Linked DNA regions of Homo sapiens: all the other regions are linked to region 2. The links come from fine-mapping of genetic effects on gene expression. A gene starts in region 2. Each other region holds a variant in brackets. All regions are shown on one strand. Distances are between the middles of the regions. Region 1 holds the start of ZBTB7A (zinc finger and BTB domain containing 7A). Region 2 holds the start of MAP2K2 (mitogen-activated protein kinase kinase 2). Region 3 overlaps MAP2K2 (mitogen-activated protein kinase kinase 2). Region 4 overlaps MAP2K2 (mitogen-activated protein kinase kinase 2).

The links. PIP is the estimated chance that this variant, and not a neighbour inherited with it, causes the effect.
Region 1: its variant is fine-mapped to the expression of MAP2K2 in whole blood (TOPMed, PIP above 0.99).
Region 3: its variant is fine-mapped to the expression of MAP2K2 in whole blood (INTERVAL, PIP above 0.99).
Region 4: its variant is fine-mapped to the expression of MAP2K2 in whole blood (TOPMed, PIP above 0.99).

The regions. Positions count from the first base shown.
Region 1 is chr19:4,065,261-4,073,303 of GRCh38, reverse strand. It overlaps ZBTB7A (zinc finger and BTB domain containing 7A), which reads left to right and starts at 6,405. Exons shown (of 3, transcript NM_015898.4): 1 at 6,405-6,622. RefSeq lists silencers at 1,386-1,586, 4,458-4,616, 5,555-5,884, 5,945-6,054, 6,265-6,324 and 3 more. The variant C/T (reference allele first, on the strand shown) is at 4,183.
Region 2 is chr19:4,120,067-4,128,109 of GRCh38, reverse strand. MAP2K2 (mitogen-activated protein kinase kinase 2) reads left to right here and starts at 3,988. Exons shown (of 11, transcript NM_030662.4): 1 at 3,988-4,326. The coding sequence starts at 4,235. RefSeq lists silencers at 3,836-3,955, 4,146-4,395.
Region 3 is chr19:4,085,114-4,093,156 of GRCh38, reverse strand. It overlaps MAP2K2 (mitogen-activated protein kinase kinase 2), which reads left to right. Exons shown (of 11, transcript NM_030662.4): 11 at 2,449-2,836. The coding sequence ends at 2,559. Among named protein-coding and RNA genes, the nearest start is that of ZBTB7A, 22 kb to the right of the region's middle. RefSeq lists enhancers at 3,212-3,291, 2,647-3,423, 3,702-3,871. The variant C/A (reference allele first, on the strand shown) is at 2,733.
Region 4 is chr19:4,094,660-4,100,386 of GRCh38, reverse strand. It overlaps MAP2K2 (mitogen-activated protein kinase kinase 2), which reads left to right. Exons shown (of 11, transcript NM_030662.4): 7 at 973-1,186; 8 at 3,044-3,108; 9 at 4,938-4,999. Among named protein-coding and RNA genes, the nearest start is that of MAP2K2, 27 kb to the left of the region's middle. The variant A/G (reference allele first, on the strand shown) is at 3,020.

The sequences.
Region 1 (8,043 bases), 55 kb after region 2:
TCATTTGTCTTCTTTCTTACTATCTTTAGCCTCCTCTAGCCTGTACGCTGGAGAGCAGGGACTTGGCCCATGGAAAGCACATGGTCCATTTTTGTCCAGTGAATAAATGAGACAGGAAGGCATGGCCGGGCACGGTGGCTCATGCCTACAATCCCAGCACATTGGGAGGCCAAGGCTGGTGGATCACTTGAGCCCAGGAGTTTGAGACCAGCCTAGGCAACATAGCCAGACTCTGTCTCTATCTACAAAATAAAAAGAAAAGTAATTAGGTCGGGCACGGTGGCTCACGCCTGTAATCCCAGCACTTTGAGAGGCTGAGGTAGGTGGAACATCTGTGGTCAGAAGTTCGAGACTAGCCTGACCAACAGGGAGAAACCCCGTCTCTACTAAAAATACAAAATGAGCCCGGTGTAGTGGTGGGTGCCTGTAATCCCAGCTACTCGGAGGTTGAGGCAGGAGAATGGCTTGAACCCGGGAGGTGGAGGTTGCGGTGAGCCAAGATCGCGCCATTGTACTCTAGCCTGGGTGACAAAATCAAAACTCTGTCTCTAAATAAATAAGTAAATAATAGGTCAGGCGCGGCAGCTCACACTTGTAATCCTAGCACTTTGGAAGGCCAAGGCGGATGGATCACAAGGTCAGAAGTTCAAGACCAGCCTGACCAACATGGTAATACCTCATCTCTACTAAAAATACAAAAATTAGCCGGGCATGATGGTGTGTGCCTGTAGTCCCAGCTACTTGGGAGGCTGAGGCAGAATTGCTTGAACCTGGGAGGCAGAGGTTGCAGTGAGCCAAGATTGCGCCACTGCACTCCAGCCTGGGAGACAGAGTCATACTCTGTCTCTAAATAAATAAATAAATAAATAAAGCACAAGGCCGGGCACGGTGGCTCACGCCTGTAATCCCAGCACTTTGGGAAGCCGAGGTGGGCGGTTCCCAAGGTCAAGAGTTCGAGACCAGTCTGGCCAATATAGTGAAATCTCGTCTCTACTAAAAATACAAAAAATTAGTGGGACGTTGTGGCGGGCACCCGTAATCCCAGCTACTCAGGACGCTGAGGCAGGAGAATTGCTTGAACCCGGGAGGCGGAGGTTGCGGTGAGCCAAGATCGTGCCATTGCACTCCAGCCCAGGCAACAGTGCGAGACTCCGTCAGAAAGAAAATAAATAAAAATAAAAATGAAAAATAAAAAGCACAGTTGTTTCTAGAATATTGAAAGAGTTATGGAACCATTACTTCTATATAACTTCAGAACATTCTCATCATCACCAAAATAAACCTCATGTCCAATAGCAGTCACCCCCATTCCCCTCCCCAGCCTCTGACAACCACGCATCCACTTTGTATCTCCATGGATTGGCCTGTTCAGCACATTTCAGAGAAATGGGATCACACAGTTTGGACTTTTGTGTCTTGCTTCTCTCACTGAGTATGATGTCCTCAAGGTGCATCCACACTGTGGCCTGCATCAGAGCTTTGCTCCTCTTCATGGCTGAGTCATATTCCGCTGTGTGGATGTCCTATGCTGTGTTTATCCATTGATCTAATAATGGAAGCTGGGCGCAGTGGCTCATGCCTGTAGTCCTAGCACTTAGGGAAGCTGAGATGGGTGGATCACCTGAGGTCAGGAGTTTGAGACCAGCCTGGCCAACATGGTGAAACCTCTTCTGTACTAAAAATACAAAAATTAGCCAGGCATGGTGGCAGGTGCCTGTAATCCCAGCCACTTGGGAGGCTGAGGCAGGAGAATCGCTTGAACCTGGGAGATGGAGGTTGCAGTGAGCTGAGATTGTGCCACTGCACTTCAGCCTGGGTGACACAGGAGACTCTGTCTCAAAAAAAAAAAAAAAGAAAGAAAGAAAAGAATAATAGCAATGGACACTGGAATTGTTTCCACCTTTTGGCTGTTGTGAATTATGCTGTTATAAACATTCTATTTCGGCCGGGCGCGATGGCTCACGCCTGTAATCCCAGCACTTTGGGAGGCCGAGGTGGGTGGATCACGAGGTCAGGAGATCGAGACCATCCTGGCTAACACAGTGAAACCCCGTCTCTACTAAAAATACAAAAAAAATTAGCCGGGCGTGGTGGCGGATGCCTGTAGTCCCAGCTACACGGGAGGCTGAGGCAGGAGAATGGCGTGAACCCTGGAGGCGGAGCTTGCAGTGAGCCGAGATCGCGCCACTGCACTCCAGCCTGGGCGACAGAGCGAGACTCCACCTCAAAAAAATAAAATAAAATAAAATAAACATTCTATTTCATTATTATTATTATTCATTTATTTTTAAAAAATGGAGATGGGGCCAGGCGCGGTGGCTCATGCCTGTAATCCCAGCAATTTGGGAGGCCAAGGTGGGTGGATCACAAGGTCAGGGATTTGAGACCAGCTTGGCCAATATGGTGAAACTCCATCTCCAGTAAAAATACAAAAATTAGCTGTGCATGGTGGCGTGCACCTGTAGTCCCAGCTACTTGGGAGGCTGAGGCACAAGAATTGCTTGAACCCGGGAGGTGAAGGTTGCAGTGAGCTGAGATCGCGGCACTGCACTCCAGCCTGGGCAACAGAGGGAGACTCCGTATCAAAATAAATAAATAAATAAAAATAAAATAAAATATTACATGACTTCACAGCACAGTCTAGTCAACGTAACTGAAACTCAAGTCCCCCCAGCCACTCCCTTTGTGTCTTTGCTAAGTTACTCCTCCTCCCTGGTCCCCTGTCTACATCTATCCACCAAGGATAATAACCCTGGCTACGGCCGGGCCCGGTGGCTCACGCCTGTAATCCCAGCACTTTGGGAGGCCGAGGTGGGCGGATCATCTGAGGTCGGGAGTTCAAGACCAGCCTGAATAACATGGAGAAACCCCGTCTCTACTAAAAATACAAAATTAGAGGCCGGGCACGGTGGCTTATGCCTGTAATCCCAGCACTTTGGGAGGCCGAGGCGGGCGGATCATGAGGTCAGGAGTTTGAGACTAGCCTTGCCCACATAGTGAAACCCCATCTCTATAAAAACGCAAAATTAGCTGGGCATGGTGGTGCGCGGCTGTAATCCCAGCTACTCAGGAGGCTGAGGCAGGAGAATCGCTTGAACCAGGGAGGCGGAGGTTGCAGTGAGCCGAGATCGTGCCATTGCACTCCAGCCTGGGCAATAGTGTGAGACTTGTCTCAAAAAAAAAAAAAAAAAAAATTAGCCGGATGTGGTGGCGTATGCCTGTAATCCCAGCTACTTGGGAGGTTGAGGCAGGAAAATCGCTTGAACCTGAGAGGCAGAGGTTGTGGTGAGCCGAGATCGTGCCATTACACTCCAGCCTGGGCAATAAGAGTGAACCTCTGTCTCACAAACAAATAAACAAACAAACAAACAGACAAACAGAAAACCCCTGGCTACACAGAGACAAAAATAATAGGCGTGACTCAAACATTAATAATATAATCACACCTATCATGTAATGAAGACCTCCCTGGTGCAGGGGTTGTGCTGTCTCAGCGTTCCATGCACCGTCTCATTTCTCCCTTGTCACAACACTAGGAAGTTGCATCGATTCTTCTCTCCAAAGGAGTCTGAGGATCAGAGAGGTTAAGCAACCTGCCCAAGATCACACAGCAACCCAATCTTTTATACTTTATTAGGTTTTCAATAGTATCAACTCGGGTTTTTTTTTTTTTTTTTTTTTTTTGGTTGGGGGAGGAAAAAGGAAGTGAAGGGCAGAGGTCAGGAGGAAGCTTTGGGTCCCCTTCGTTCTGTTTTCATGACAGGGGCGGGGGGCGTGGTTTGGGGTGTGCCACATCCTGGCACTTCCTGAAGGACCTCCCTTTGGTCCCCCTGGCAGCGTCCAGAGACACGCGAATGCTGGACTTAACATCCTTGCTCCTTGTCCATCTCTGGGCCTCAGTTTCCCCAACTGTATGGTGGAAATTGTAGTCTCTGCTTCTTCTCAGGGCTGCGATGAGGATTAGGGTCCATGCCCGTCTCACAGAGGAGCCCCTGCCCCTCTGAGTCAGGTTCTCACCATGGAGAATCCGAGTGGGGCTTTCTCGATCCTTTTCCTGCAGGATCGGATCTGAGGCTGGTGGTACAAGAGGGGAAACTGAGTCACCTGCTGCTCCTGGTGTGGGGGAAGTTAGACCATGTAGAGCTTAGAGCCTGGGCGTCTCGCTGGCACGATGGTTCATTC[C/T]TGTCATCTCAGCACTGTGGGAGGCTCAGGTGGGAGGAACACTGAAGCCCAGGAGTTTGAGACCTGGGAAACATAGCAAGACCCCCCCACGGCCCCACCAAATCTCTATTAAAAAAACAAAAAACAAAACAAACAAACAAAAAAAACCAAGGCCAGCCACGGTGGCTCACGCCTGTAATCCCAGCCCTTTGGGAGGCCAAGGTGGTTGGATCACCTGAAGTCAAGAGTTTGAGACCAGGCTTGCCAACATGGCAAAACTCTGTATCTACTAAAAATACAAAAAAAAAAAAAAAAATTAGCCGGGCGTGGTGGCAGGTGCCTGTAATCCCAGCTACTCAGGAGGCTGAGGCAGGGGAATCGCTTGAACCCGGGAGGCGGAGATTGCAGTAAGCCAAGATCGTGCCATTGCACTCCAGGCTGGGCGACAGAGCAAGTCTGTCTAAAACAAAAAACAAAAAAACAAAACAAAAAAAAACGTCTGGGCATCATTTGCAGAAATCCAAACACAACAGTGGGATCTGGGAAGAATCGTGCTTCAGCGTGGCCTCCTGGTCCCGAGGCTGATGGCCGGTGGTTGAAGGAAGAAGGATTTCTATCCCAGGCAGGGTCCTTGGAGCAAAGTCCCTGGATGACACCCTCGCCCTAGATCCACGCGGCCCCTCCCTGGGTCCCTTCCCACCTACCCGGCTGGTTTCAGGCTGCGAGTCCTGAGACAGTCCACTTCCCCTCCGGGGGGCCCTCCCGGGTTTCCCCTCGTAGCCAGATTATTATTACAAAAGCCAATCCAACCCGTTTGGGTGTTGAAAGGCGCTTTTAATAAATTGTGCGAAGAAGCCATAAACTGTGTCTCTCGCAGGAGAGGCTTTGAAGTCAGAGGACAGGCTGGGTACACTACACCCAGGCCGGTGGTGGTTCCCGCTGTCAGGTGGTGTTGGTACTAAGAATGCCAGATAATAATAAAACATAATAATGACCCTGGGATTAGGTGTTAGAATGAAGGCACAGTGAGCCCCGGAACAGGGTCACCCACTGGATAAGCGCTCACTAAACGGCAGCTAAAGCAGCTGTCAGTACTCTCTCTGTCTGGAGGAATGAGGAAGGGGAAACTGAGTCCTGGAGCCCTCCCCCCCCCCCCCAGGCGCGCGGTCGCACCAGCCAGCCCTCCCCGGGCCGGGCCAGGACGTTCTCACCACTCGTGCCCTGCTCCCCCTTCCCTGTCCCCCGCCGGACCTCTCCCACGACCGGGGAGGAAGTGGGAGAAACGGACAGGGGAAAAAAAAAAGTCGCGCTGAACCAACGCCTCCCCACTCCCCACCTCCGCCCCTCGCGAGCCATGCAGACCCCCTTGTGCCAAGGAGCGGCCCGCGCGGACCAGGCGTCCAGGGCCCGGTCCCCGTCCCGCCCCGCGGCCCGCAGCCGGGTGGGGGAACTCGCGAAGCCGGGAAAACAACCGCCCTCCCCGCCCCTCGCCAACCCCTTCCCCCGCTGACGCCCCTAGCGCAGCGGGGTGGAGGCGACTCCTTTATATAATCGCGGGAGGGCAGGTTGGTGGTTTCATTTAGGGACCCGGGAGCCCCGCGGACCCGGGCTGTCCTTGGCAAGGCCACCCCCCGGGGTCCCTGGCGCGGCAAGTCCCACTGAGGCCCGGGGAGGCCCAGGGCCTGGCCTTGCGGGGGGATCCCCACCGCCTCACCCCCAACCCACCCCCGGCAGCCCAGGCCGCGCGACCCACACGCCCGCGTCGCTCCTCGCTGTGCGCACCGCGCTCCCCGCCCCCGCTGCCATCCTGCCACGCCCCGGGCGTCGGGGGCACAGCCCGCGCCCCCCCGCACCCCGCCCCTGCGCAGAGGCTGGGGGCCTGTTTATCTGGAGGCCCCCACCCCCCCTCCACCCCGGGGGGCCCGCTCCCCCCGCGCCCCGGGGAGCTCTGGGGCCAGATAAGCTGGCAAGCTGGCACGGCGCCGCGCGGCGGGGCGGAGAGGTCAGAGGCGGGGGGGCGCGCCGGGGCGGGCCGGACCCCCCCCCCCGACTTGACAAAACCTAATAACAGCCCGGTCTCCCCGGCGCAGCGGGCGAAGCCCCACGGGAGGGCAGAGACGTGGCAAGAGGGGACCTGCCGAGCCTGTTCTGGCCTCCGAGGCCAGGCTGGGGGGGGCGGGCTGGGCGTGGGGGGGCCGGCGGCTGCGGCACCTTTAAGACAAGGGAGGACCCCTCTTGCCCTCGGAGAAACCAGGAAGGGAGTCGCGAGCATCATACGGGGCTTTGGCTGTACTGTACAGTTACTGTAGGGGCAGTGACGCCGCCGCCGCCGCGCGAGGGAGCGACCAGGGCAGCGCGACGCGGGCAGAGCGAGCGCCGCGGACCCCGGAGGCGAGCGGCCGAGGGAGCCCAGTCCCAACTTCGGGCCCCGGCCCCGCGCGCCCCGGCCCGGCCCCGCGAGGTAAGTCAGCGCCCGGCGCGGCCCCCGGCACGGGGTGCAGGGCGGGGACGGGCGGGGGTCGCTGCGGCCACCGCTGCCCCCTCGGGAAGGGGAGATCCGGGGAGCCGGGGACGTTCCCCCAAGTTTCAGAGGAAGGGGTGGTTGGCAGCTGCCCGGAGGCTGGAGGCGCCCTGGATCCCGAGCGCGGGGAGGGGGCGCCGCCCGGGAAGGGGGGATTGGGGGCTAAGTGCATGAGCTTGTGCGCCAGCCCCCCCCAACCCGGGTGCATGGCTTTTCGGGGCTCCCAGGCGCGCGGGGAGCGGGGGAGGGGAAGCAGGGCTGCATTGAGGGTGGGGGGAGCCGGCGTGGGGAGATAGGGGGGCGCGTCGCCTGCTAAGTTTCCAGCTGAAGACGAGGGGCGCTCTCGCCCCCCGGGGGCCTATTCGGTGCTGCGTGCATACGTTGGAGTTGGCCAGGATTGAGCTCCATGGGGGATGGGGGGGAGGGGGCTGAAAAAACAGGGAGGGGGGCTTCGGAAAGGAGGGGGAAGGGGTGGGGTGTCCGGGTGGGCGGGCAGGGCCGCAGGGACCTCTGGGCTTCGTAGTCCCTCCGCCGTTTGCAGCCGGCAGGTGGCAAGCGGCTTGGACTACAAGTCCCAGGGTGCCCCGCGCCGACAGCCCGCCGCGGCCTGCGGGTAGGGGCGGTGCGGAGGAGGGGCGGTGAGCGGCGGGCCGGAGAGCCAATGGGCGCGGGCCGATCGCGCGGCGCGGCGCGGGGGCGGGGCCAGCCCGCCAGGGGGCGGGGCCTGGAGCCGGGCTCCCCTCGCCGGGGGCCGGTGGCGGTCCCGGCTTCCGGCTGCGCGGCCCGCGGGCCGGCCCCCTCCCCGCCCCGGGGCCCCTCCCCGCCTGGTTGTGTAACCGTCCCCAGCCCCCCTCCCCTCGGCCCCCCGCCCGTGGGGGGGGGGTCACCCTCCCCGCGCTCCCCGGGGAGGGCGGCGGCCCGGGCGGCCGCGCGGTGCAGGCGAGCCCGGGGATGCGCGGCCTAGCGCAGGCCGGGCCCGGGCGTGGGGGAGGCGGGCGGGCGGACCCAGATCCGGGGTAATTTGCATCGCCCTCCCCCCAGCCCGGGTGGGGATTGGCCGCCGGCGGCGGGGGGTGGCGCGGGGCCAGGCTCACTGCCGCCTCCCGGCCCCTCGGAGGGAGCCAGCCCAGCCGCAGCCGCCGCCACCGCCGCCGCCGGGGCCGGGCCCCCTCGCCGCTGCCCCGGGAAGGAGGTAGGAGCCCCCCGCGCGGGCGAGGCGGCGGGGGACCGCGGGCCGGGCGGGGGCCGCGCGCTGCGGCCGGGGCGGGGGAGGGGGCCGCTTCCTGCCCCCGCCCGGGCCTGACTCAGCCCCGGGTGGGGGGCCTGGCCTGGCCCCTCGCCCTGCCCGGACGGCCGTCCGG
Region 2 (8,043 bases):
GATTATAGGCATGAGCCACCACATCTGGTCTTCTTCTTTTTTTTTTTTTTTTTGAGACAGAGTCTCCCTCAGGCTGGAGTGCGGTGGCACGATCTTGGCTCACTGCAACCTCCACCTCTCAGGTTCAAGTAATTCTCGTGCCTCAGCCTCCCAAGTAGCTGAGACTACAGGCACCTGCCACCATGCCCAGCTAATTTTTTTTTTTTTTCCGAGATGGAGCCTTACTCTGTTGCCCAGGCTGGAGTGCAGGGGCACAATCTTGGCTCACTGCAACCTCCACCTCCGGGGTTCAAGCAGTTCTCCTGCCTCAGCCTCCCGAGTAGCTGGGATTACAGGTGCCCACCACCATGCCCGGCTAATTTTTGTGTGTTTTTAGTAGAGACGGGGTTTCACCATGTTGGTCAGGCTGGTCTTGAACTCTTGACCTCAGGTGATCTGCCCACCTCGGCTTGCCAAAGTGCTGTGATTACACCCGTGACCAGCCTAATTTTTGTATATTTAGTAGAGATGGGGTTTCACCATGTTGGCCAGGCTGGACTCGAACTCCTGACCTCAAGTGATCACCTGCTTTGGCCTCCCAAAGTGCTGGGATTGCAGGTGTGAGCCACCACACCCGGCCTCTCCTTATTTTAATGGCTCATTGTTAAACATTTACCAGCTCACTACTGCTGGGTGCAGAGGAAGAGAATGAACTAAAAAGGCAGTGAACAGACTTTCTGGAGTAAGGGGAAGTGTTACATGGATGTATAGAGTTGTAATAATCCAAGAAATTGAACTTCAGAAACTTGTGCATTAATAGGTGAGTGCAGTGGCTCACGGCTCTAGTCCCAGCACTGCTGAGGACGAGGCAGGAGGATCGCTTGAGCCTAGGAGTGTGAGACCAGCCTGAGTGACATGGAGAAACCCTGTCTGGACAAAAAATACAAAAATTAGCCGAGTGTGGTGGCGTATGTTTGTAGCCAGGGCTACTAGGGAGGCTGAGGTGGGAGAATCGCTTGAGCCAGGGAGGTGGAGGCTGCAGAGAGTTATGATCGTGCCACTGCACTCCAGCCTGAGGCCTGGGTGACAGAGTCAGAACTTGTCTTAAAAAGAAAAAAAAAGCCTAAAATAGGATAAAATGGGAGAAAGATTGCTAGGCAAAACAGAAGGAACATGGAAATAGCCCTGTCTCTGAAAGGGCCTGTCCTTATTTGAGGCCACATATGCATCCATCTGAATTTTGGACAAGCGGGTGGGAGCGATGAGAAGTAAAACTGAAAGGCCCAGATTGTAAAAACCCAGGAGCAGGCTTCCCCAGGAGCAGTGTTTTGTTTGTTGTTTTGTTTTGTTTTGTTTTTTTCGAGATGGAGTCTCGGTCGGTCGCCCAGGCTGGAGTGCAATGGCGTGATCTCGGCTCACTGCAACCTCCACCTCCCGGGTTTAAGCGATTCTCCTGCCTCAGCCTCCCGAGTAGCTGGGACTACAGGCACGCATCACCACACCCAGTTAATTTTTGTATTTTTAGTAGAGACGGGGTTTCACCATGTTGGCCAGGATAGTCTCAATCTCTTGACCTCATGATCCACCTGCCTTGGCTTCCCAAAGTGCTGGGATTACAGGCGTGAGCCACCGCGCCCGGCCAGTTGGTTGGTTTTGTTTTTTGAGCGTGAGTCTGGCTCTGTCGCCCAGGCTGGAATGCGATGGCACAATCTCGGCTCACTGCAACCTCCGCCTCCGGGGTTCAGTTATCCCACCTCAGCCTCCCTAGTAGCTGGAATTACAGCCACCCGCCACCACACCTGTGTAATTTTTGTATTTTTAGTAGAGACGAGGTTTCACCATGTTGGCCAGGTTGGTCTCGAACTCCTGACCTCAAGTGATCAGCCCACCTCAGCTTCCCAGGGTCCTGGGATTACAGGTGTGAGCCACGGCACCTGGCAAAAAATTAAATTTTTTTTTGTTCTGTTTTATTGGAGACGGAGTCTTACTTTGTCGCCCAGGCTGGAGGGCAGTGGTGCAATCTTGGCTCACTGCAACGTCTGCCCCCCGGGTTCAAGCGATTCTCCTGCCTCAGCCGCCTGAGTAGCTGAGACTATAGGCACACACCGCCAGGCCTGGCTAATTTTTGTATTTTATTTATTTATTTGTTTGTTTGTTTGTTTGTTTGATTTTTTTGAGACGAAGTCTCGCTCTTGTCTCCCAAGCTGGAGTGCAATGGCGTGATCTTGGCTCACTGCAACCTCTGCCTCCCGGGTTCAAGCAATTCTTCTGCCTCAACCTCGCGAGTAGCTGGGATTACAGGCACGCGCCACCATGCCCGGCTAATTTTTGTATTTTTTTGTTTTAGTAGAGACGGGGTTTCACCATGTTGGCCAGACTCGTCTTCAACTCCTGACCTCAGGTGATCCACCCGCCTCGACCTCCCAAAGTGCTGGGATTACAGGCGTGAGCCACCGCGCCCAGCCTATGACCTTTCTTATAAAGTGGTACGGCTATTGTATTAAATAGTAAGGTGGTGCTTCAAAAAGTTCAACATAGAATTACCATATAATCCAGTAATTCCTCTTCAGAACATATACCCAAAAGAACTCAAGGCAAGGACTCAAACAGATATTTGTACATCTGTGTTCATAGCGGCACGATTCACCGAAGTGTCTAGTGGCAGATAAATGGATAAGCAAAATATAGTCCATGCACACAATAGAATATTATTCAGCCTTAAAAAGGAGGAAAATCCTGACTGGGTGCGGTGGCTCACGCCTGTAATCCCAGCACTTTGGGAGATCGAGGCGGGTGGATCACGAGGTCAGGAGATGGAGACCATCCTGGCTAACACGGTGAAACCCCGTCTCTACTAAAAATACAAAAAAATTAGCCGGGCATGGTGGTGGGCACCTGTAGTCCCAGCTACTCGGGAGGCTGAGGCAGGAGAATGGCGTGAACCCGGGAGGCAGAGTTTGCAGTGGGCCGAGATCGCACCACTGCACTCCAGCCTGGGTGACAGAGCGAGACTCCGTCTCAAAAAAAAAAAAAGGGAAATTTTTCTTTTTTTTTTTTTTTCTGCTCTTTTTTGGAGCAGGGCTACCCGATTGGAAGTATGCCCGGAGTAGTCAAGTGGGTAAATTCTAACACAGGTTACAACGTGGATCTAACACAGCTACAACAGGCACCTTGAGGACGTGGCCCTCAGTGAAATATGCCAGCCACAAAGGGACAAAACCTGTGTGATCCTACTCATATGAAGTCCCTAGAATCATCAGATTCACAGGAAGTACGACGTTGGGTTCCAGGGGCTGGGGAGGGGGATAGGGAGTGAGGTTTCATAGGGGACAGTGTTTCAGTTTCGGAAGATGAGAAAATTCTGGAGATGGTGGTGGTGGTGGTTGCTTAATGCCGCTGAGCTGTGCATTTAGAAATGGTTAAAATGACAAGTTTTATGTTATGTGTATTTTATAATAAAAATGTTTCAACATGCGCATAGTAATATATGCAATTTTATTTGTCAATTAAAATAAATTTTAAAAATGTTTTAGAGTGGCCTTGTTCTGATGAAGGAGGGGGAGTAACTGACACTCTAAGGCGGTGGGGGCTAGGGGCGTGTGTCCACGCTTGCCAAAAAGATTAAATGGACTCTGGGTGGGTCTCGTCCACTGTTCTGGGGTCTTACGGGTTCTCTCAGCCCCAGCCTGGGGCACCACAGGCTCTCAGGAGTCTGGCTACCCTGCCCACCTGTGCACGACCATCACCCCAGCCTTCATCCCTCCGTCTCCTCCCCTGCTCCCGCGCCTCATGCCCCAAGCGCTTGGGCACACGCGCCGTGGTAAGGCAAGCGAGGGCGCCCGGTCCCGGCACCGCCTCGCGTCGGTCTCCGCCCCTTTCCCCTCCGAAAGGCGGCCTTGTGCTGCTGCGCAGGCGCGGCGGCTGGGGGTGGGGTCCATCGCGGCTCCCGATCCCGTTATCGCGAGAAGCCGGTCCGCGATCTTGTGGCCGCCCCTCCCCTCCCCCTGCCTCTCGGACTCGGGCTGCGGCGTCAGCCTTCTTCGGGCCTCGGCAGCGGTAGCGGCTCGCTCGCCTCAGCCCCAGCGCCCCTCGGCTACCCTCGGCCCAGGCCCGCAGCGCCGCCCGCCCTCGGCCGCCCCGACGCCGGCCTGGGCCGCGGCCGCAGCCCCGGGCTCGCGTAGGCGCCGACCGCTCCCGGCCCGCCCCCTATGGGCCCCGGCTAGAGGCGCCGCCGCCGCCGGCCCGCGGAGCCCCGATGCTGGCCCGGAGGAAGCCGGTGCTGCCGGCGCTCACCATCAACCCTACCATCGCCGAGGGCCCATCCCCTACCAGCGAGGGCGCCTCCGAGTGAGTGGGCAGGGGTCAGCCGGAGGCTTGGGGTGCACGGGGCAGGGAGCCCTCGGGGAAGGACGGGGCGAGGGGACGGGGGTTCGCGAGGAGTGCACGAGGCAGGGGGGTCACGGGGGAGGACGGGGTGAGTGGTGCACGGGGCAGGGGGTTCTCGAGGGGAGGACAGGGCAGGGGACCCTCGGGGGAGGACGGGGCAGGGGGCCCTCGGGGGAGGACGGGGCAGGGGGCCCTCGGAGGACGGGGCGAAGGGTGCACGGGGCAGGGGGGTCTTTGAGCAGTGAGATTGGGCGAGGGGAGGTCCTTGTGGTGGAAAAGATGGGGTGTGGGGTTCCTGAAGAGTGGAATTGGGATAACGGGAGTCTCTGAGTAGTGAAGTTGGGGTGAAGGATGTCTCTAAGAGGAGAGGATGGGGACAGGGGTCCCTGAGCAGCGAGGTTGAGTGAGGGGAGGTCCCTGCAGTGCAGAAGATGGGGTGTGGGGCTTCTGAAAAGTGAAGCTGGGGTGAGGGGAGTCCCTCAGTAGGAAAATCGGAATGAGGGGTGTCCCCAAGGAGAGAACAGGATGAGGCTCCCCAAGCAGTGAGATCGGGGTGAGGGGTATCTCTAAGAGGAGAGAACACAGTGTGGGGTCCTTGAGTAGTGAAATGAGGGTGAAGAGTTCCTAAGAGGAAAGGACGGAGTAAAGGTTGCCGTAGTCATGAGATGAGGGTGAGGGGAGACCCTGAGTAGGGAAATCGGGGTGCAGGGCATTCCTGAGAGGAGAGGATGGGGTGTGGGGAGGTCAGGCAGCCCCTGAGGAGGAAATCTGGGCAAGGGGGCTCCAGAGGGGAGAGGATGGGGTGAGGGGTCCCTGAGTAATGAGACTGAGATGGGGTAGGGTCCCTGGTAGGAAAAGACGGGGTAAGGGTCCCTCAATAATGAGATAGGGCCAAGGGAGGTCCCTGTGGGAAAAGACAGGGCATGGAGTCACTGAGTAGCAGAATGGTGGTAGGTCTCTGAGTAGTGAAATGGGGTGAACGGTCCCTGAATAGTGAAATCGGGGAGATGGTGGGGTCCCTGAGTAATGAGATTGGAGTGAGGGGAGATCCCTTTGGGGAAAAGATGGGGTTTGGAATCCCTAAGTCGTGAGATCAGGCCAAGGAGATGTCCTTGCAGAGAGAAGATGGGGTGCAGGGCCCCTGAATTGTGAGATGGGGTTGAGGGGGTCCCTGGGAGGAGAGGATGTGTCGGTGGGGGCCTGTGGGGGAAGGATAGGCAAGGGGTGTTCTGCATATTGAAATGATAGTGAAGCGAGTCCCTTGGGGGAGAGATGGGGTGAGGGGGTCCCTATGGGGGAAAGATGGGGTGGGAGGGTTCCTATGGGGGAGAGATGGGGTGAGGGGGTCCCTATGGGGGAGAGATGGGGTGGGAGGGTCCCTATGGGGGAGAGATGGGGTGAGGGGGTCCCTATGGGGGAGAGATGGGGTGAGGGGGTCCCTGTGGGGGAGAGATGGGGTGGGAGGGTCCCTATGGGGGAGAGATGGGGTGGGAGGGTCCCTATGGGGGAGAGATGGGGTGGGAGGGTCCCTATGGGGGAGAGATGGGGTGGGAGGGTTCCTATGGGGGAGAGATGGGGTGGGAGGGTGCCTGAGCCACAGGTTGAGAGTGCAGCACCTGGGTGGGGAGGACAGGCTGAGAGGTCTTGGGGGGGCGGGGAGCGGTCCTTTTGGGGAATGAGTCCCTGAGTAATGAGGTTGGCATGGGATGAAGAGGGCACCTAGGGTGCCAAGGTGGGGCAGGGGGGTCCCTTAGGGGAGAGGATGGGGTGAGGAGGTCCATAGACAACCAGGGAAAAGGGAAGAGAGGGGAGGACAGGGGGCTCCCAGAAGGGTCAGGATGTGGGAGAGGGGTGTCCTAGGGGGTCACGATGGGGTGGGAGACCCTAGAAAGGTCAGGATCGGGGGACTTTGGGGGGGTCAGGGTGGGAGTTCTGGGGTATCTGAGGACAAGGGGGTGTCTTAGGGGTGTCAGGACATGGGGGGGCTTTAGCGGGGTCAGGATGGGAGTTCTAGCGGGTTCCAGATGGAGGGGTTTCTGCTGGGGGAGGTCTAGTGGGATCAGGACAGGGGTTCCAGGGGGTTCATGTTGTGGGGGGGGTCAGGTTGGGTCCTCGGGGGTCATGTTGGGGGATTCTGGGGGGGTCAGGTTAGGGGGTCCTCGGGGGGTCATGTTGTGGGGGTTCTGGGAGGGCAGAGCAGGGGGTCCTAGGGGTCTCATGTTGGGGTTCTGAGGGGGTCAGGATGGGGTCCCAGGGAGGTCAAGATGTCAAGATGGGCATCTCTGAGAGGGCATCTCCTGCTTGTGGCGGTGCCCAGTGTGTGGAGTCCCTGAAGCTGGAAGTGTGAGGAGACAGGGAAGCCAGAGTGTGAGGAACGAGGAGGCGTGGGGATCAGGGGACCCTGCTGGCCCCTGAAAGCAGAGGTGCAGATTCTGAAGTGAGTGGACCGGAAAACCCTTGTGAGGGGCTGACCCAGTGCAGAAGCTTTGAGGAGGTGGAGGGCGACCAGAGGCCTGGGTGAAGGGATCTGAGAAAGGGGTATGCTGGGGTCCGGGTGGCGTGCTGGCAGAATCGCACTGCTCCAGGACGAGGGAGGGGACTGGGTGTTGGGGGCACACACTGGTGGGGTCATGCCAGGGTGATCTCTGCACTCCCGTTCTGCAGGCCGAGGCAGGGCAGGGCGATCCCCGGGGCCCTTGGCTGGGGTCCGGGTGCCGTGCCTGCGGTGTGACCCCTCAAGAACCAGGTGTCAGGGACTGTGGCATGTCTGGTGGCCTCTCCCGCTTGGGGGTCGGCCTTCTGTGACCCAGATGAAGACTCTTGATGCCAATGTGTGCAAGTCAACACGGGCACAGCCAGACACGGGGACCCGTTCCTCATTCTCTGCACAGAACTCGCCCTTCACATTTCTCTTCCGTGTGGGGTTTGATTCCCATCTCTTGAAGGATTCCCCCAGGAGAGGAAGCTGGCTGTAGGGACGCCAAGGTTTTGTTTTGTTTTGTTTAATAACCACAGTTGGGTTGCCAGTAAATTTAAGATGGATTAGTCAGCTGACTCCAGAATGCATTTTCAATGTTTTGAGCAGTACTTGAGACCTTCCAAGTCTGCCATCAGAAGTGTTCATTCATGGCTGGGTGTGGTGGCTCACGCCTGTAATCCCAGCCCTTTGGGAGGCCAAGGTGGGTGGATTACTTGAGGCCCAGAGTTCAAGACCAACCTGGCCAACATGGCAAAACCCCGTCTCTATTAAAAATGCCAAAAAAATTAGCTGAGCGCGGTGATGCACACCTGTAATCCCAGCTACTCAGGAGGCTGAGGCAGGAGAATCGCTTGGACCCAGGAGGCAGAGGTTGCAGTGAGCTGAGATCGTGCCAGTGCACTCCAGCCTGGGCGACAGAGCAAGACTGTCTCAAAAAAAATAAATATTCATTTATTCATTGATGTTATTCATTCATTCATTCATGTTCCCCTCCTTACCTTCTGTCCCACTCCCAGGGTCTCGCCATTTCTGCTTCTTCTGGGTCCTTGTTCAGCAGCTCCTCAGTGAGCACCTACTAGGGCCCTGTTTCCCCTCATGGGGGACACTAAGATGAGCAGGGGTTGTCCTGACCTCAGGCAGGTGTTGTTACCTCGGGCAGGTTCCCCCACCCCTGTGAGTCTGTTCCCTCCTGCCTGGGC
Region 3 (8,043 bases), 35 kb after region 2:
AACCTCCGCCTCCCAGGTTCAGGGAATTCTCCTGTCTTAGCCTCCTCAGCCTCCTAAGTAGCTGGGATTACAGGTGGCTGCCACCACGCCCAGCTAATTTTTGTATTTTTAGTAGAGATGGGGTTTCCCCGTGTTGGCCAGGCTGGTCTCGAACTCCTGACCTCAGGTGATCTGCCTGCCTCAGCCTCGCAAAGTGCTGGGATTACAGGCGTGAGCCACCGTGCCCGACCTGCCCAGCTAGTTTTTTTTATAGAGACAGGGTCTTGCTAATTGTCCAGGCTGGTCTCAAACTCCTGGGCTCAAATGATTCTCCCACCTTGGCCTCCCAGAGGGCTGGGATTACAGGTGTGAGCCACTGCACCTGGCATGTGTGACTTTTTTTCTTTTTTAATGAGGCAGGCTGGGCATTGTGGTGGGCACTTGGAATCCTAGTGCCATAGGGGGATGGCTCTCTGAGGCCAGGAGTTCAAGGCCAGCCTGGGCAACATGGTGAGACTGTGCCTCTCCAAAATAAATAAATAACTAAAAAGAGAGGGGTACTAATGTTGAAATAACTTTTTTTTTCCCTCAGACGGAGTCTTGCTCTGTTGCCCAGGCTGGAGTGCAGTGGCGCAATCTCGGCTCACTGCAAACTCCATCTTCCAGGTTCAAGCGGTTCTCCTGCCTCAGCCTCTCGAGTAGCTGGGATTACAGGCTCGTGCCACCACACCCGGCTAATTTTTGTGTTTTTAGTAGAGATGGGGTTTCACCATGTTGACCAGGCCAGTCTCGAACTTGTGATCCACCCACCTAGGTCTCCCAGAGTGCTGAGATTATAAGCATGAGCCACTGGGCCTGGCTGAAATAGCCATTTTTGAACCAGCTTCTTAAAAATGCTCCCCTGTTGGGTATCCTGGACCTAGCCAAGATGTGTCCTATCAAGTTGGTTGGTTTTTCACCCATACCTACACCGACTTTTAGGAAGATAGGCACCTTGGCCTGCCTCCAGCTGCAAAAGAGGCAGCATTCAGGGGCCCAAGGTCCTGGACACCACCCTCCTGGGAACCCCAAAGGCCTCTACTCACCCACTGTGGGGTGGCCCAGCACAGCCTCTTCCCCAAGGGCACCCGCCCTCCTCCCCCAGCCCTTCCAACCAAGAGGCTTCTCATGTTGTGCTGTCCTGTACAGGAACCGCTGGTCACACGTGGCTGTTGAAGTGTGTTCAGTGGGGCCGGGCACAGTGGCTCACACCTGTAATCCCGGTACTTTGGGAGGCCGAGGTGAGCGGATCATTTGAGGACAGGATTTCGAGACCAGCCTGGGCAACATGGAAAAACCCGGTCTCAACTAAAAATACAAAAATTAGCTGGGCATGGTAGCACGCACCTGTAATCCCAGCTACTTGGGAGGCTGAGGCGGGAGAATTGCTTGAACCTGGGAGGCAGAGGTTACAGTGAGCTGAGATCATACCACTGCACTCCAGCCTGTGCGACAGAGCAAGACTGTCTCAAAAAATAAAAATTAAGGCCAGTTGCGGTGGCTCACACCTATAATCCCAGCACTTCGGGAAGCTGAGGCAGGAGGATCATTTGAGTTCAGGAGTTCGAGACCAACCTGGCCAACATGGTGAATCCCCGTCTCTACTAAAAATACAAAAATTAGCTGGGTGTGGTGGCACATGCCTGTAATCCCAGCTACTGGGGAGGGTGAGGCAGGAGAATCGCTTGAACCCGGGAGGCGGAGGTTGCAGTGAGCTAAGATCACACCACTGCACTCCAGCCTGGGCAACAAGAGTGAAACTCCATCTAAAAAAAAAAAAAATTAAAGTAAAAGTATTTAATTAATTTGTTAAACTGAAATAAAATTGAGGCTTTTGTTCTCAAGCCATGGGAGCCACAGTCCAGGGGCTCTGGAGCCTCATGTGCTGGCGAGTGGGACGGTGCCTGTACAATGCTCTTCGCGGAGTTCTGTGGAACAGCCCGTTCTTGCCTGGGCTGTCCTGCTCCGGGGGACCCTGGCAATGGCTGAGGACATTGTGGTGTCACGACTTGGGGAAGCCCCTGGCATGGAGTGGGTGGAGGCCAGGGACGCTGCTCAGTACCCTGCAGTACCCAGGATGGCCCCACGCCAGAGAATGATCCGGCCCCGGTGTCCACAGCGGCCGGAGGACCCTGGGCTTGCGCGAGCGTAGACCCTCCCCTGGGAGCGCAGGCTGCCGTGCTGGTGGTGTCCCCGCCCCAGGTGGAGTGCAGCATCCTGAGACCCCTCCCAGGCCTGGCACACGCCGCTGCCCCTTTCTGGGTTTCTTTCCCTCTCCTACCCCGAGTGCGTCTTCCTGTGGGGAAGGGAGGGTCTCCTCTGTTTTTTGCTTTCTGTCCCGTACCATCTGCCAGGGCTGGGCAGACGCTGGCCCTCCCCGTCCTACTGTGACTCCAGGCCCGGGTGCTCACGGCTCCCCTTTCCTTGCAGAACCACACCTTCATCAAGCGGTCCGAGGTGGAAGAAGTGGATTTTGCCGGCTGGTTGTGTAAAACCCTGCGGCTGAACCAGCCCGGCACACCCACGCGCACCGCCGTGTGACAGTGGCCGGGCTCCCTGCGTCCCGCTGGTGACCTGCCCACCGTCCCTGTCCATGCCCCGCCCTTCCAGCTGAGGACAGGCTGGCGCCTCCACCCACCCTCCTGCCTCACCCCTGCGGAGAGCACCGTGGCGGGGCGACAGCGCATGCAGGAACGGGGGTCTCCTCTCCTGCC[C/A]GTCCTGGCCGGGGTGCCTCTGGGGACGGGCGACGCTGCTGTGTGTGGTCTCAGAGGCTCTGCTTCCTTAGGTTACAAAACAAAACAGGGAGAGAAAAAGCAAACCGCGCCATCCTGCTTCTTTCTTCCGTTCGGCGTTGGGTGCTGGGCTTTGCTTCAGCCCAGCACGGAGAGGACATCCCTGAGCTGACCCGCATCGCCGGGCGCCGAGGCTGGAGGGCGCAGGGCCCTCCCTTAGGGAGAGCTCGCCTCTCCCTTTGGGTCAAGGGATGAAGACCTGCAGTGAGCCCCCAGGCGATGGCGGCTCTCACCAAAAGGAAGGAGAGTGAGGCTGGGGGCGGCGGCTCATGCCTGTCATTCCAGTGCTTTGGGAGCCTAAGGCGGGAGGATCGCTTGAACCCAGGGGATTGAGGCTGCAGTGAACCTCGATGGTGCCAGTGCGCTCCGGCATGGGTGACAGAGCAAGGCTACTGAAAAAAAAGAAGGGAAATGCCACCTGGTTTCCCTCTGTGTCCTCCCCGCCACCATCTCTGCCCCTGTGGAAGGCAGAGCTTCGGCCTTCCGTGATGGAAACCACTTCCTCTACACTGCTCCTGTCACGTAGCCTCCGCGGGAAGGCCGCCCCTGCCTCTTCCCCAGCGTGGCACCATCCTCTCCCTGTCCCCCCGCTTCAGGGAGTGGGGGCTCCCAGCAGTGGCAGCTGAGCTGAGACTCAGCCCCACAGAAAGGAAGCGCTGGCTTTCCAAGCTGTCGGTTTGGTTGGAAACCCCAGCAGGTCCCGAGACACGCCCTGCACTCCCCCTGCGTCCGCAGCAGGCCCAGCCCAGGGCGGGTGGTTCTGTCACCTCTCCTCGCCCAACAAATCAGAAGTGACCACCAGGGCATGTGACACTTTCGGGCCTTTGAACTGTTCCGCCGCAGTGGGCTGCAGATGAAACGGTGAGGGCTTGTCCTGGGGTCTTCGGGGTTCCCGGAGGCCCATCGCCTGCTTCTCCGGTTGTCCGAGATCCAAAGCCCAGCCTTTCTACCTTCGGGACTGTGTGCTCGGATAGAGGAGGCCACCTCTGGGCTAGGTGTGGTGGGCAGCTGGGCTGTTCTAGGGTCCCTCTGAGCTCTCTAAAGCTCTTGAGGCTGTGAGCCTCCCCCTTCAGTACTTCCTGGAGACTACCAGCAAGCTGATATTATCTGCGGGCGAATTGTAGGGGAAGGGTGGCTGGCAACTGTGTTTCTGGAGGAAACAAAGCAGAAGGTGGGGGCTTGTGGTTCTGTGGGAACTGCTGGATTGTCCTTTTCTTCTTAGGGTGACCCTTCTAGTCTTGTGTGGCTTTTTTTTTTTTTTTTTTTCTGCAGACACCAAAGAAGAGATGAGTTGACACCTCCTGCAAACAGCTCCCCAGGCTGCTCTCCTTTATGTTTTGCCCTAAAGTCTCACATGACTTAAAAAAAAAAAAAAAAAAGCCAGGCTTGGTGGCTTACACCTGTAATCTAAACACTTCGGGAGTCCGAGGCAAGAAGATCACTTGAGCCCAGGAGTTCAAGACCAGCCCGAGCAACATAGTAAAACCCTATCTCTACAAAAAAAAAAAAAAAAAAAAAAAAAAATTGGCCGGGCATGGTAGTGCACAACTGTAGTCCCAGCTACTCAGGAGGCTGAGGCAGGAGAATCACCTGAGCCTGGGGAGGTGGAGGTTGCAGTGAGCCAAGATCTCACCATCACACTCCAGCCTGGGCGACGGAGTGTGGCCCCAAAAAATAAAAAATAGGAGAAAAAAAAAAGTGTTGAAGGTGCCGCCCTGTGGGTAACCAGGACCCTCAGGATTGCCGGGAGGGCCGGGGGGAATGTGTTGGCTGCCTGTGCTCCAAACCGGCGGGACCTCGGCCGGTCCTGGAAACCCCAGGGTCCCGGCCACCCCCTGCCATTGGCAAGGAATGAAAGGACACGGAGTCCCAGGGGAGCAGGGGCAGTCTGGGCTAGGTGGGGATGGACCCCGCGCCAGGATCCCTGCGGTGTGCGCAGCCATCCTGCAGCTTCATTGGAGCCCCACGGCACCCCAGAGGGAAGGACGGGAGAGAAGCCGTGGTCTTGCCTATCTTCCCTGCCTCGCTTCAGGGTCAGACTTCTAGAAACTACTTTGTAGATGTGGCAAGAGTGCGTCCACCCTGGCGGTTTCTAGATCTCTCAACTCCTGCTCCCCCAAGAAACCTCCCAGACCCAGCCGCCGCCTCATCCGAGATCCCCCTCCTGCCTGCTGTCCTTTGGACTCGTTGCCTCATTTTCTCCACTGTGGAGGCCTGGGAAGGGATCCCGGGTGCTCCCAAAGGTGGCTACACACCTGGGGATGCCCCTTTTTGCCCTGGCCACGGACATGCTGCAGTCCAGGGGGTAGGATTTCCCTGCCTCCCGGGGCCAGACCCTTTCCTGTAAAACATGCAGCATTTTAAAATTTGCAGGGCATGGGCTGGGTGGCTCACGCCTATAATCCCAGGACTTTGAGACCAAGGTGGGCAGATCACCTGAGGTCAGGAGTTCAAGACCAGCCCGGCCAACACGGCGAAACCCTGTCTCTACTAAAAATACAAAAAAAAGTTAGTCGAGCTTGGTGGTGGATGCCAGTAGTCCCAGCTACTGGGGAGGGTGAGGCAGGAGAATGGCGTGAACCTGGGAGGCGGAGCTTACAGTGAGCTGAGACTGTGTCAGTGCACTCCAGGCTGGGCGAGACAGCGAGACTCCGTCTCAAAAAAATAATAAAAAATAAATAATAAATAACGTTTGCGGGGCTTTAGGGTGAAGGGAGTGTCACTGAAAGCCAGGCCTTGGGGGGCCCTGGGGCAGCTCACTCCTTGACATTGGAAGGTTTTACACAGACGTGTTGAGGTTTTCTGTGGTTATTAAAAACCTCCAGATAGGCCGGAAGCGGTGGCTTATGCCTGTAATCCCAGCACTTTGGGAGGCCAAGAGGGGCGGATCACGAGGTCAGAAGTTCGAGACCAGCCTGGCCAACATGGTGAAACCCTGTCTCTACTAAAAATACAAAAATTAGCCAGGCATGGTAGCACGCCTGTGGTCCCAGCTACTCAGGATGCTGAGGCAGGAGAATCGCTTGAACCCGGGAGGCGGAGGTTGCAGTGAGCCGAGATCGCGCCACTGCACTCCAGCCTGGGCGACAGAGCAAGACTCTGTCTCAAAAAAAAAAAAAAAAACTTCTCGACAACATGATAGCCCTGCCCCCATGTCTGAGGCCCACGTGGACCTGGGGCACACCACCTGTGGCCCCAAGAAGACTCCTACAGTGTTTTGTCGGCTGTTTTCCCAGCTCGGTATTTTTTTTTCCAGACAGAGTATTGCTCTGTCGCCCAGCCTGGAGTGCAGTGGCATAATCTCAGCTCACTGCAACCTTCACCTCCCGGTTCAACTGATTCTTGTGTGTCAGCCTCCCGAGTAGCTGGGACTACAGGTGCCCACCACACCCAGCTAATTTTTGTGTTTTAGTAGAGACAGGGTTTCACCATGTTGCCCAGGCTGGTCTCAAACTCCTGACCTCAAGCCGTCCACCCGCCTCGGCCTCCCAAAGTGCTGAGGTTACAGGCGTGAGCCACCACGCCCACCCCCCAGCTTGGTATTTTCATCGTAAATAAACAGCGCTTGACTTGCTCATATGTGCTGGCTTCTGCCTCCGGAGAGCATGGGCAGCCCTGACATCCCTCTCCATAGTGCAGTCTGTCCCCGGACACACCAAAAAGTCACTGGCTCCATGCAAGTGCCCCAGGCTGTGTGCCGGGCAGGATTTGCTAACATATTTGATTTATGAAGCTGGGGTCACAGGCGACTGCCTGCTCGCTTCATCCTGTGGAATTCTCCCCAGGTGGGACCCAGGCCGGCCCTGGGACAGGCACATACTTCCTTCTCCTCCTGCAACAACCGCCTCGGGGTGGGGCAAGTGGAAAGGTCATCAAATGAAATGAGGCCGGAGAAGCAACCAGCCGCCCAGAGGGTGAGATTCCACGCGGGGCACCACGCCATAGCGTCCCCGTCCTGTCCCCATCCCTGCCACCCCAACCCAATGTGCACATTGCACCCCAGACGAAATGTACATTTCCCAGTTTTAGCAGGATTTCCCTGTTAAAACATTTTAAATAGAAAGGGCTGGGCACAGTGGCCCACGCCTATAATCCCAGCACATTGGGAGGCCAAGGCGGGAGGATCACTTGAGGTCAGGAGTTCGAGACCAGCCTGGGCAACATGGTGAAATCCCATCTCTACTAAAAATACAAAAATTAGCCAGGCATGGTGGCGGGCGCCTGTAATCCCAGCTACTAGGGAGGCTGAGGCAGGAGAATCCCTTGAACCTGGGAGGTGGAGCTTGCAGTGAGCTGAGATCATGCCACTGCACTCCAGCCTGGGCAACAGAGCGAGACTCCATCTCAAGCAAACATAAATTAGCCAGCGTGTTCACTTAAACCCAGGAGAGGAAGGCTGCAGTGAGCCAAGATCGTGCCACTGCCCTCCAGCTTGGGCGACAGAGCAACACTCTGTCTCAAAACAAACAAACAAACAAAAATTAGCCGGCCTGTTCACTTAAACCCAGGAGACGGAGGCTGCAGTGAGCCAATATCATGCCACTGCCCTCCAGCCTGGGTGACAGAGCGAGACTCTGTCTCAAAAAAAATAAATACCGTTCTGGTGCAGGGGCTCATGCCTGTAATCCCAGCACTTTGGGAGGCCAAGGTGGGTGATCACCTGAGGTTAAGAGTTCAAGACCAGCCTGGCCAACATGATGAAAGCCCATCTCTACAAAAAATACAAAAATTAGCTGGGCATGGTTGTGGGCACCTGTAATCCCAACTACTTGGGAGGCTGAGGCAGGGGCGCAGGAGTTACCTGTTCCACCCCGCGCCCCTGCATTCCAGCCTGGCAACAGAGGGAGACAGACTCCATCTCAATAAATAAATAAATAAATAAATATTAATAAACAAAATAGAGGAAAAGAACAGATGATTTGATAGTATATTTCACCCAGCAGAGCCAAAATATTCCCGTTTCACCTTGGAATCAATATGAAATATTTAGGTTTTTCTCTCTTTTTTTTTTTTTTTTTGAGATGGAGTCTCGCTTTGCTGCCCAGGCTGGAGTGCAGTGGCGTGATCTCGGCTCACCACAACCTCCACCTCCCGGGTTCAAGCGATTCTCCTGCCTCAGTCTCCCGAGTAGCTGGGATTACAGGCATGTGCCACCACACCCGGCTAATTTTTGTATTTTTAGTAGAGACAGGGTTTCACCATGTTGGCCAGGCTGGTCTCGAACCCCTGACTT
Region 4 (5,727 bases), 27 kb after region 2:
ACAATCTTGGCTCATTGCAACCTCCGCCTCCCACCCGGGAGCAATTCTCCTGCCTCAGCCTTCCAAGCAGCTGGGGCTACAGGCATGTGCCACCACAGCTGGGTAATTTGGTTTTTGTTTTTGTTGTTGTTGTTGTTTTTTGAGACACAGTCTCACACTCTCACCCAGGCTGGAGTGCAGTGGCGCCATCTCCGCTCACTGCAAGCTCCGCCTCCCGGATTCACACCATTCTCCTGCCTCAGCCTCCCGAGTAGCTGGGACTACAGGCGCTCGCCACCACGCCCGGCTAATTTTTTGTGTTTTTAGTAGAGACAGGGTTTCACCATGTCAGCCAGGATGGTCTCAATCTGACCTTGTGATCCGCCCGCCTCGGCCTCCCAAAGTGCTGGGATTACAGGCGTGAGCCACCGTGCCCGGCAGCCTTGGCTAACTTTTAAAAAAATGTTTTTAGTAGAGATGGGGTCTCGCCATATTGGCTAGCCTAGTCTTAACTCCTGGGCTTCCACCTCAACCTCCCAAAGTGCTGGGATTACAGGCATGGGCCACTGCACCCGGCCCTTAGTTAATTTCTGGACCAAGGAATTGGAATCTGGGGTCTTTCAGGAAACGACTGGGGATTCAGCAACCTGCCAAATTGAGCCTTGGAGCAGCCTCTGAGATGTTAGCTGTGGAGGAGGAGGCCCCTGCTTCCTGGGGCCCATCATCCATTCCCAAAAGTGCTGAGCATTGCAGGCTCTTCAAGAGCTGCGGTCAACACCAGCTCCAGGCCTCGGGCTGGAAGCCTCTTCAGCAAGTGCCGCAGGGAGGCCCTGGGTGGGTGAGCCGGGAGGTAGAATTGCGTAACAGCTCTCTATCCATTGCTGCGGTCATTAGCCATGGAGAGGGTGACGGGGGCTGTAACGGGGCAAGCCTCCCGGGTTCCAGCTGCCATCCTCGCCCCTCTGGGCTCTTTCCTCCCTGGCTCTGCTGCAGCCGGAGCGGTTGCAGGGCACACATTACTCGGTGCAGTCGGACATCTGGAGCATGGGCCTGTCCCTGGTGGAGCTGGCCGTCGGAAGGTACCCCATCCCCCCGCCCGACGCCAAAGAGCTGGAGGCCATCTTTGGCCGGCCCGTGGTCGACGGGGAAGAAGGAGAGCCTCACAGCATCTCGCCTCGGCCGAGGCCCCCCGGGCGCCCCGTCAGCGGTACGGCCTGAATCTGCAACTTCCGGTCTGGACGCGCAGTGCCCTGCGCGGGGCCTGCTGTGCCAGGGTCAGCAGCTGCCTCCCCTCTGCCCCTGGCGCACCACCTGTCCCCCTGGATGGTGCCGACTGTGGTCAGCAGTCCTCCCATGGTCCTGGGGTTTCCGGGGACAGAGCTGGAAGCAGTGAGCACCCCAAACCTGTTCTGTCCGGGGCAGCTGCACCTGTTGTTGCCAGCTGGAGGGATCTGGGAGCGCAGCTTTGCCACCAAGCCCCTGGGCAGTTGGATTTTCCAACATTTTATCCCGAAAGCATTCAAACGCACAGAAAAGTGGAAGGAATTGGCCGCCACAGAGCCTGCATTCTGCAGGTGACACGCTCCTGTGCTGCGGGCCAAGCCTTCCAGGGAGTCCTGAAGTGGAGATTGGACTTGGCATGGCCCTCAGTGGCCTGTTGGCTCCGGCCCCAACACACACAGGAGGGGACACAGCCCGGGAGGGGGCGGGAGGGCTCAGGCCCCAGGGACAGCTGGGCTCGCAGAGGACAATCCGGCACTTAGGGCGGGCACCTCGGGAGCGGGAGCTCCCTGACGCCAGTCAGAGAGGGCCGAGCGGACACTTCCACCGCCTGAGGGAAGAGCCGGGGGCGGACCCTGCTTGGTGCAGAATCACAGGAGGGTCCTGTGATTTTTTTTAAAGTCAGACATCAGGGAGAGTTGGTGGCGTCAGACCCCAAAGGACCCTGTAGCGGACTGTGGTTGGTTTTAAAACCATGTTTCCGAACTACAAAGCACACACCCCACAACTCATTTCAGGTGAGCAGTTCAGTGGTTTTCAGTCACAGTGCTGCGCCCCATCACCTCTAATTCCAGAACCTTCTCAGCTCCCCAAGAGGAAACCCTGTCCCCATCAGCTGTCACTCTCCATCCCCTTCCTGCCTCTGGACTGGCCTGTCCTGGGCATTTCACAGAAATGGGGTCACACACTTGTGTGGCCTTCTGTGTTTTGTGTGTGGCTTCTCTCCTGGAGCGCAGTGTCCTCAAGGGTCATCCACGCCATGGTGCGTGTCAGAGCCTGGGTCCTTTTGAAAGGCTGAGTAGTATTTTATGACACGAACAGGCCACGTTTTGTGGTCCTACCCGGATGGATTGGGGCTGTGAGAAGGAGATTTTCATAGCACTGGCAAGCCCACCTCCTCCTCTCCAGCCAGACTGCTGGGATGTCTTGATCTCATCCCAGGGAGAGGCCCCCAAGTCCTTATCCTCAGGCCTAGCCTCAGCCTCTCCCAGTCCCAACTCTCAGGTGGTATACCATCCCCAGCCCAGGGCCCCAGCCCACCTGCCCATTTCAGGACGGGCAGAAGGCGAAAGTCCAGCTGCCAAGCCCAGGCCTGGCCAGCTGGTTCTCAGACAGGGGTCAGCCACCCCTAGCCAGTCTCCCGTCCTGAGTGGCACTTGGGGCCTGCCCCCATCACCGCCAGCAGCTCCATGCAAGGTCACGCGGCTGTCCTTGCCTGCGGTCAGCACCGTCCCTCCCCCTGCCCTCCAGAGAGGAGGGGTGATGACTTTGGCACGTCCGGCAAGCCTCACCGAGCCAAATGTGTGACTTCTCAAAAAATGTTCTTGTTCCTTTTGCCTTTTTTTTAATTCACTAGAGGCTCAGGCAAGGAGTAGCTGTCCCAGGGAATGGAACCCAGAGTCAGGCAGGGGAGCTTTGTCCAGTGCCTCTGCACACCCGCCTCCAATTTAGGCTGGCATGTGGAGGAGGGCGCCTGGTGGTGATCAGCCCCCTGGGAGCCCAACCCCCAGCAGAAGTGAGGTGGCCATCGGCCCATCTC[A/G]CCTCCATCTCTCTCCCTGTGCAGGTCACGGGATGGATAGCCGGCCTGCCATGGCCATCTTTGAACTCCTGGACTATATTGTGAACGAGGTTTGTGCTTGATGCCTTTTGGCTTTTCTTTTCCTTTTCTTTCTTCTTTCTTTTTTTTTTTTTTTTTTTTTTTAGGCAGAGTCTCTCTCTGACCAGAGCAAGAGTCACCAAGGCTGGAGTACAGTGGTGCCTTCTCGGCTCACTGAAACCTCCACTTTCCAAGCTCATGTGATTCTCGTGCCTCAGCCTCCCGAGTAGCTGGGATTACAGGTGCGCACCACCACACCCAGCTAATTTTTTTTTTTTTTTTTGAGACATTGTCTAGCTTTGTAGTGCAGTGGCTTGATCTCAGCTCACTGCAACCTCCGCCTCCCAGGTTCAAGCAATTCTTGAACCAATTCCACGTGTGTCGCGTCTCCCATCTTCTACTGTGCTGCACAAGCCCAGCTCCTTCCCAAGGGCATTGTTTTTTTATGAAGACGAACCCAGAATTCCCACCGCAGCCTCTCACCCTGAGTCCAGAGGGAGGTGTGTGCCAGCAGCCCTGGGCTCAGGCCGAGGAGCCAGCCTGCCCCTTGAGCAGTGGCCCAGTGTCTCTGCATCAGAGCGTCCTGGCGCCCGTGGGCGTGGACTCATAAATCACCCCGCTTCCACGGAGAAAGGTACAGGAATGGCCCTTGCCTCTTGGAAGGAGGCCCAGAGAGCCTAGAAGGACCTGTAGGTCCCGGGGTGGCTCCTGCTCCGTCAGTCCCCATAACAACCCAGTGAGCCACAGTATGAGGGTTTCCACCGCCCAGATGAGTAAAACAAGGCACAAGGAGGGACGCGGCCTCCTTCCAGGCCTGCAGCTGTCAGGGAGGCACAGGACTGCACCCCAAGGTCCTGTTGGCCACGTGACCAGGCCGGGCCACCTCCCTGGGCCTTCTGTGGGTTTCTGTGTCTTTGGTGGCCCTTTGGAGCTGGGGCAGAGAAACGGGCATTTGAGCTGCCTGCAGACTGGGCTAGGCCTGGGGTTGGGTGGCGAGATGATGACGGAGCCAGGTGGGGTGGCCCTGGTGACCCAGCTCTCCCTGCACCTAGCAGCCACACCCATGCCCAGTGAGCACATCCCCCGACCTCTCCCCCGCCTCTTCCCGCCCCTGCCCCTGCGCGGGAAAGGCCTGCCCCTGCCCTGCTGGCACCGCTTACACGGCCACTCCCGCTCCGGGGACGTGTGTCAGGCCAGGCTCCCCAGTGCTTGGGCTTAAAACTGTGGACCCAGTTTGGCCGGGCACGGTGGCTCAGGTGTGTAATTCCAGCACTTTGGGAGGCCACAGTGGGTGGATCACCTGAGGTCAGGAGTTCGAGACCAGCCTGGCCAACCTGGTGAAATACCGTCTCTACTAAAAATATAAAAATTAGCCAGGCGCAGTGGTGGGCACCTGTCATCCCAGCTACTCAGGAGGCTGAGGCTGGAGAATCCCTTGAACCCCGGAGGTGGAGGCTGCAGTGAGCCAAGATCACGCCATTGCACTCCAGCCTGGGCAACAGAGCGAGACTGTCTCAAAACAAAATAACTTTGGATCCAGATGTCCCTCTGTGGGGCCCAGTCCCAAAGCTCATCCTTCAGCCAGTGACACTGGGGAAGGAAGCAAGTGACGACACTCGAGAGGTTGTCCTGTTGATAAAAGGGGGACGCACCCCACTCTTTCCCTCTAAGCAGCCGTGACTCTCAAACGAGAGCTTTCGGGAGAAGGCCACCTCTGACAGGGTGCAGCCCAGTTGGCATGTGGTGTCGGCCAGGCCTGCAGGGTGGGTGACCGGACAGGACAGTGAGGGGTAGAGAGGGCTGCAGCCGAGGGTCCCTGACGATGCCCAGGGCTGACCCCACCCTCTGTTCTCCTCCACAGCCACCTCCTAAGCTGCCCAACGGTGTGTTCACCCCCGACTTCCAGGAGTTTGTCAATAAATGGTAGGTGGAGCCGGGCTGCCCACACCCCTGGCCGGGACCCAGATGTGCCACTCCTTCCGGGTCCTGGGTGGGGCCCGTGGCCCAGCCTGCCCATCCAGAATCCCAGTGCAGCGTTAGGCAGGACTCAGCCCAACGGGAAGCCAGATTCCTTTTCCCAGAGCTGTGGGGCTGCAGCTCCCGGCTGCCATGCCATCCTGTCCGTGAGCCCAGGGGTGAAGCAGGATTGCAGGCCCTGTGCACATGACGGTGTCCCCAGCTCACTGTCTGCAGCAGGAGAAGCCTCTGTCTGGTCCCCGGACCCCTGGTGTGCTGACTGTGGGCTCCCCGGGATCCGCCCGCAGGTTCTGGGAGGGTCGCCAGCCCCACTCCATTCTCCTGCCCCCAAGCACCCAGCAGCACCTGTGGCGTGGGCTTCACAGGCATGTGCCGCAGACCACGGGGAAGGAGCTGCGGACACCCCGCTGCCCACAGGGCCGGTCCATGTGTGTGAGCTCGGGACGCCGTGGAACGGCACCGCACTCCTGGTGCCGGAGTTGCCCCGGGCCCTTGGCGTGCGCTCCGGCGATGTTGCCCCGGGCCTGGGGTTTTATTAGACAGTTAGCTGGGGTTGCGTCCAGGCTTCTGACCCACCAGGCGGGGTTTCCCACCCTCTTTCCCTCTCACCCTCCCGCTGGGGGGTGTCCTGCCCCTGGCACCAAAGTGCAGAGGTGGATCCCTCGTCCTCTGCC